Regions from separate parts of the Homo sapiens genome. Here region 2 is linked to region 1. Evidence: fine-mapped expression QTL. A gene starts in region 1. The other region holds a variant in brackets. All regions are shown on one strand. Distances are between the middles of the regions. Region 1 holds the start of VHRT (ventricular heart development associated lncRNA). Region 2 has its middle 5.7 kb from the start of LINC01404.

Evidence for each region. PIP is the estimated chance that this variant, and not a neighbour inherited with it, causes the effect.
Region 2: its variant is fine-mapped to the expression of VHRT in testis (GTEx, PIP 0.95).

Annotation. Positions count from the first base shown.
Region 1 is chr12:110,934,875-110,937,788 of GRCh38, forward strand. It overlaps VHRT (ventricular heart development associated lncRNA), which reads left to right and starts at 1,728. Exons shown (of 2, transcript NR_036513.1): 1 at 1,728-1,824; 2 at 2,311-2,574. RefSeq lists enhancers at 991-1,684, 1,685-2,378 and a silencer at 2,291-2,585.
Region 2 is chr12:110,962,019-110,964,932 of GRCh38, forward strand. No RefSeq gene overlaps it. Among named protein-coding and RNA genes, the nearest start is that of LINC01404, 5.7 kb to the left of the region's middle. The variant G/A (reference allele first, on the strand shown) is at 1,420.

The DNA.
Region 1 (2,914 bases):
TGGAAATCCATTAGCAGCAGCTTAAACAAACGGGGGGTTCGTTTTCTCTCAAGAAGTTGGAGAACAGACAGTTCCACGGTTGTTCAGTAGCTGGACATGATTGGGGACCCCAGAGTTGTCTCTGTGACTCTGTGGGGGTTCCCTCTTGTGGTCCCAAGATGGTGGCAGCAGAGCCAAGTGTCCTGTCCTCACGACACTACGTTCAAAGCAGAAGCTGGGGCGGGGGTGGTGGCAGTGGGGGTGGGGTCAGGTGCAAATGTTTCTTTACTTCTTATGGAGGACAATATCTTCATGGGGAAGCCCCTAGGAGACTTTTCATACATCTCACTGGCCAGAACAAGGTAAGGCGCCCACATCTAGACCAAGTCTGACCTACCTGCTTTGACATCCAAGGTTCTTTGGCCTAATCCTGAACATAACCAGAGTTCTATTAGCAAGAAAAAAGACAGCAAATGGACTTGGGGTAGGCAATGAATAATGTCTGCTCCACCCACACCCCCAGTAACTGAAGTAATATTTCCCCAATATATATGGTACAGCACACAATATCCTGCAACAAAATGGTTCTATAGGCTGGGCGTGGTGGCTCACGCCTGTAATCCCAGCACTTTGGGAGGCAGAAGTGGGCGAATCATTTGAGGTCAGGAGTTCGAAACCAGCCTGCCCAACATGGTGAAACTCTGTCTCTACTAAAAATACAAAAATTAGCTGGGTGTGGTGGCGCATGCCTGTCATCCCAGCTACTTGGGAGGCTGAGGCAGAAGAAGCTCTTGAACCTGAGAGGCGGAGGTTGCAGTGAACTGAGATGATGCCATTGCACTCCAGCCTGCGCGACAGAGTGAGTCTCTGTCTAAAAAAAAAAAAAAAATTTTCTGTAGCCAACAAGAGAGTCTAGTTCAACAGGTTCCCCAGTTGCAGATCTTCTCAGAGCCTTTAAACAATGATGACTACTTATTGACTATTTGCCAGCTGCTGTGTCCATAGCTACATCTCTATTATCTCATTAAATCCTTATAATAACTCTAAGGGACAGAGGAAATAGAAACTAAGGAAGGGGGCAGAGCCAGGAATTGAACCCAGGACTCTGATTCTAGACTCCTATGCTGTCCTTTTACTACAGAGCAAACATCTACTAAAAGGGACAAGTTATTCTTCTCTGGGGGATACTGAATTAAGACTGAAAGCCTGGAAACTTCCAGCTTCTCTCTTGCTATTCCTTTCTCCCCGTAGATTGCCCCTGGCTCCTGGGAGAGGAATTCAGATTAAATCTCATGTCTTCGGTGTGGATTCCCAAAATTGAAGTCTGCTCTTTTTAAAATTTTTTTGGTAACACCTTGTTTTTCTCTTTCAGGGCACTTACCTTAGTTTTTAGTCAGGTATTTTCATTTATTTGTGCGTTAGGGACTTGTCTCTTTTACTGTAATATCGGCTCCATAAAGGCTGAGGTTTTTGTCTGTCTGTTTTGCTGCTGTAGCCCCAGCACCAAGAACCGTGGCTGGCACACAGTAAATTCACAGTAAAAATGTCGAGTCAATGAACAATCTTGACTTGGCTAATTGATAGGGTTTGGCTGTGTCCCCACCCAAATTTCATCTCCAATTGTATTCCCCACTTGTCGGGGGAAGGGCCTGGTGGGAGGTGATTGTATCATGGGGGCGGAGCTCCCCCTCCCCCTTGCTATTCTCGTGATAGAGCTCTCCTCACTTCTCTCTCTGTCTCTCCTGCCACCATGTGAAGAAGGTGCTTGTTTCCCCTTTGCCTTCCGCCATGAGTGTAAGTTTCCTGAGGTCTCCCAGTCATACTGCTGGTTAAGCCTGCAGAACGGTGAGTCCATAAAACCTCTTTTCTTCATAAATTACCCAGTCTCAGGTAGTTCTTTATAGCAGTGTGAGAATGGACTAATACACTAATACATTTCCTCTTTCTGAAACTGCATGTGCACATTTGTTAAAAAGGCTGGGTAAAAACTTGTTTTGAAATTCTGGTTTTGTGGGGTGGGTTTGATAAAAGGATACATGCTCACCACAAAACCTGCGAGGAAACCTAGGGAAACCAGAAATTCCAAAAAGAGATCCCTGGGAGTTGGCCTTGAATTGCACCTGGCTTCCATCACGGTCAGCCTTGGCCTCAACAGGAGAAACCCATTCATTGCGAGACGCGGACTCTGCTTGAATCCGGGTCCTGCAGCTGAGAGAATGGGCTGCATTTTTTTTCTCGGCTCCTCTTCCTTTCTGAAAAGGCCTCCCGCAGATCCATCTGGCTGCCTCACCCCCGATGACCTTTCCATCCTGTTCCTTTCCAAATTCCCAGGTGTACTTGTTTGAAATGTATCTGGCCCAATCGCTGAGCGTCCGCGCTGCATTTCTCCAAACTGCCCAGCAGGGGGCGGTGCTACCTCGGCTCCGCGCAGCCACGGCTTCCCGCTGGCGAACCAAGGGCGCGGAATCTGGAGAGGGCGAGGAACATCTTTCCTCCCACCTGTCCCCCGCCAAGCCTGCCAGACCCGTCTCATCCGTGCTGCTGCTTCTGAAAATCAGAAGAGTGAGGATGAAATAAAGTCTTCATAAAGGAAAACCATTTGCTTGTTTAGATTTCATTCATTCACTACTCAAATATTTACTGAGCTCCTACTGTGTGCCAAGCCTTGTTCTAAGCCCTGGGAGTCAACAGGGAACAAAACAGACACAAATTCCAATTCCTGCCTTCCTGGAGCAGTCCTTCCTGCTGGGGGCCGGTGGGCAGGAGGTCTTAGATGACAAACGTAATAAATAAGCAAACGACCTAGGAGGTTAGAAGTTGATACCTTCTATGGAGTAAAATAGGAAAATAGAACAAGGTAAGAGGGAAGAGAGACAGAGACAAAAAGGAAGAAAGAGAGAGATAAACACGATTTTTTTTTTTTTTTTTTTTTTTT
Region 2 (2,914 bases), 27 kb after region 1:
ATAGGAACTCCCTAAACTATATTATTAATTTTCCTTTAAACCTAAGACAGTTCTTTAAAAAGTCTATTCAAATATTGAATTAATATTTGATGGTTATATTATGATGATTGGGTTTTGTTGTTGTTGTTTTCTTGTTGTTTTGAGAGACAGGGTCTCACTTTGTCACCTAGGCTACAGTGCAGCGGCAGAATCATGGCTCACTGCAGGCTTGACCTCCCAGGCTCAAGCAATCCTCCCACCACAGCCTCCCAAGGTTCAGGGATTACCGGCATGGAGCCACCATGCCCAGCCTGATGATTGTTTATATTATTCACAACTGGGCCACTTCGTGTGCTATGACTATAACATTTTGTTTTTCCTAGAGTTAGCCATTGCCTCTTTTTTTTTGTCTTCTGTGTTCTTATCAATAACTCACCCCAGGCTCTCTGCTATTCTTATAAATCTCTCAATACATTCAAGAACACTGAGTAATTTATCAGTTTAATTTATTTTTTGGCTTCAAGTGCTACTGCATTGTCCTAATACTCCATTGTCGTAATACTCCCTCATTCAGATGGTAGCAGGGTTTTAAAACACTAAAGTAGTTTTAAATCTATCTTTTAAAAAAAAATCTCAATTTTACTGCTGGAGAAGGCTGTAGAATTCATCAGAGAAAGAATAGAAATTGGGCATTCCTCTAACCACTGAACAGTTCTTTCCTTCCAACACCTAGCTCCTCTTAGCACATTTCTTTGTGTATTACAGTCAGAAAATAACAGGATATTGGACTTTCCAGGGCTTTTCAGTCTTTGGTTTAGGACTCTCCCTTAGGCTGATGGACAACAATTATCATAATAGCTACCATTTCTTGCATATCGTCTGGATGCCAGGCACTGTGCCAGGCACTTACATGCAGGATCTTATGTGACCTGCATAGCAACTTACTAAATTTGTCACCTTGGGTGTGGCACATGCCCAGTGAAACACCATCCTCAGGATTATTGTTTCAACCTGCCAACTTTATTCATTTATCTCCCTGTCTAGCCCCCTAGATGCCATCTGAGGCTTTGACATTCTTCTCTAGGAAAGACCATATTTCCAAGTTCCAGATGGAAAATGGACTGGTTATGGCCAGTCCCTGTGGCTTCCTATGGCAGCTTAAAGGGCTCATCTTGCAGGATCCTGCCCTGGGCTCCCTCTTCCTCCTGTGTGCCGGATATGATGACAGCTGTCAAGAGGGACAAGGCATTTCAGGTGGGAAGTTTTCTAGATCCAAAATGGGGATCAGAAGTCACAACTCCAAGCACCAGGGCTTGCCCTGGGGCTGACTTCTCTTGAATCATTTCCTCTGAGATTCATGTTTTCCCATAAGAACCACTTGAATCCCCTCTTATTAGTCTCCCTCTGTCGTGAGCACTGGCCGCACCCCTGTTCCTGTGT[G/A]TAAATTCTCCTGCTTCCCCAAGGGCTGTTTCTTGGCTGAGGTTTATCAGGCATCAGAGCATCTACTCCACAAGGTCACATGACTCTGGCATCTTCCCACTCATGCATTTCTTTTTTAAAAAATTTTTATTTTATTTTATTTTATTTTATTTTTGAGATTGAGTCAGGCTCTGTCACCCAGGCTGGAGTGCAAAGGCATGATCTCTGCTCACTTGCAACCTCAACCTCTGCCTCTCGGGTTCAAGTGATTCTCCTGCCTCAGCCTCCAGTGTAACTGGGATTACAGGCACGCACCACCCCCGGCTAATTTTTGTATTTTTAGTAGAGGTGGGGTTTTGCCATGTTGGCCAGGCTGGTCTTGAACTCCTGACCTCAAGTGATTCACCCGTTTTGTCCTCCCAAAGTGCTGGGATTACAGGCATGAGCCATCACGCCTGGCCCCTACTCATGCGTTTCCATCTAGCCATGGCCAGGCTGCCTGCAGCCAGTGTAAAATACCAATCCATCTTGATCTATACACTTTTAATGAGCAACTACTATGTACCAGGCATTGGGCATTATTTCAGTGTTTCTCAAACTTCAGTCATTTGAATTCTGCTTCCCAGGTTTTCCAAGTTTCATCTGTACTACTTTTGACTTAATATTTTTCTTTAAATTGGCTCCTTTTTTGTTTCAATAAATTTATTTTGAAAAGGAACTTTAGAGCACTGCCATCAGTGAAAAAAACAGTAGACAGTAATATTTTTCAAAAGTAGACAGTAACCTTAAAATAAATGCATAACTATTAAAATAAAAACTTTTGCTCTCTGTCCCCCTAGTACCCACCAATGCTGCATATACCTGGAATGATGCTGCTTTTCACCCCATTCCCACAAGGTGGGTTTCATTGCCATCTCCATTCTACAGATGTGGGAACTAAGGTTCAGAGGGGTGAAGGGACTTGTCCAAGGAAAGAGGTTTGGAAAGTGGTGGGATCGAGGTTCAAATCCAGGTCTGTCTGGAATGAACACCAATGAGCCTCAACCACAAGGCTTGGGGTCTCTGAGGCCCAGTCTTGGTTCCCAAGGTGCATGCAAGGGTCTTCTGTCTTCCCAGTGGTGGTATGCATTGATTCCCCAGGATGATGAAAACTTGCTGTACCCCCTTCTCCATTTATCCACAGATAAAAGAGGCAGAGATTACCGTGAAAGCTTCCTGATGGTGTGAGAGAGTCACAGAGGTTCAATCTCACATCACATGACCCAGCTTTGTTCTCTGCCCATTCACTAACCACTATCTGTACTAATCTCTGGCGGGAGCTGATTGGACCAAGCTAGGCTCCTGGCTCCGGCTGGGCCAATCGGATTCTCTCCTCTACTCTCTCTTTCTCTGTCCTCTAGCTGGGCTTGGGTCAAGGTGAGGAGACAATCAGCCCAAAGCGGACCCCGAGTGGAAGGTGGTTGGTGTCCCAAAGGCAAATTAGGGTGCTGGTATCTGAGCAGGAAAAAGAGATATC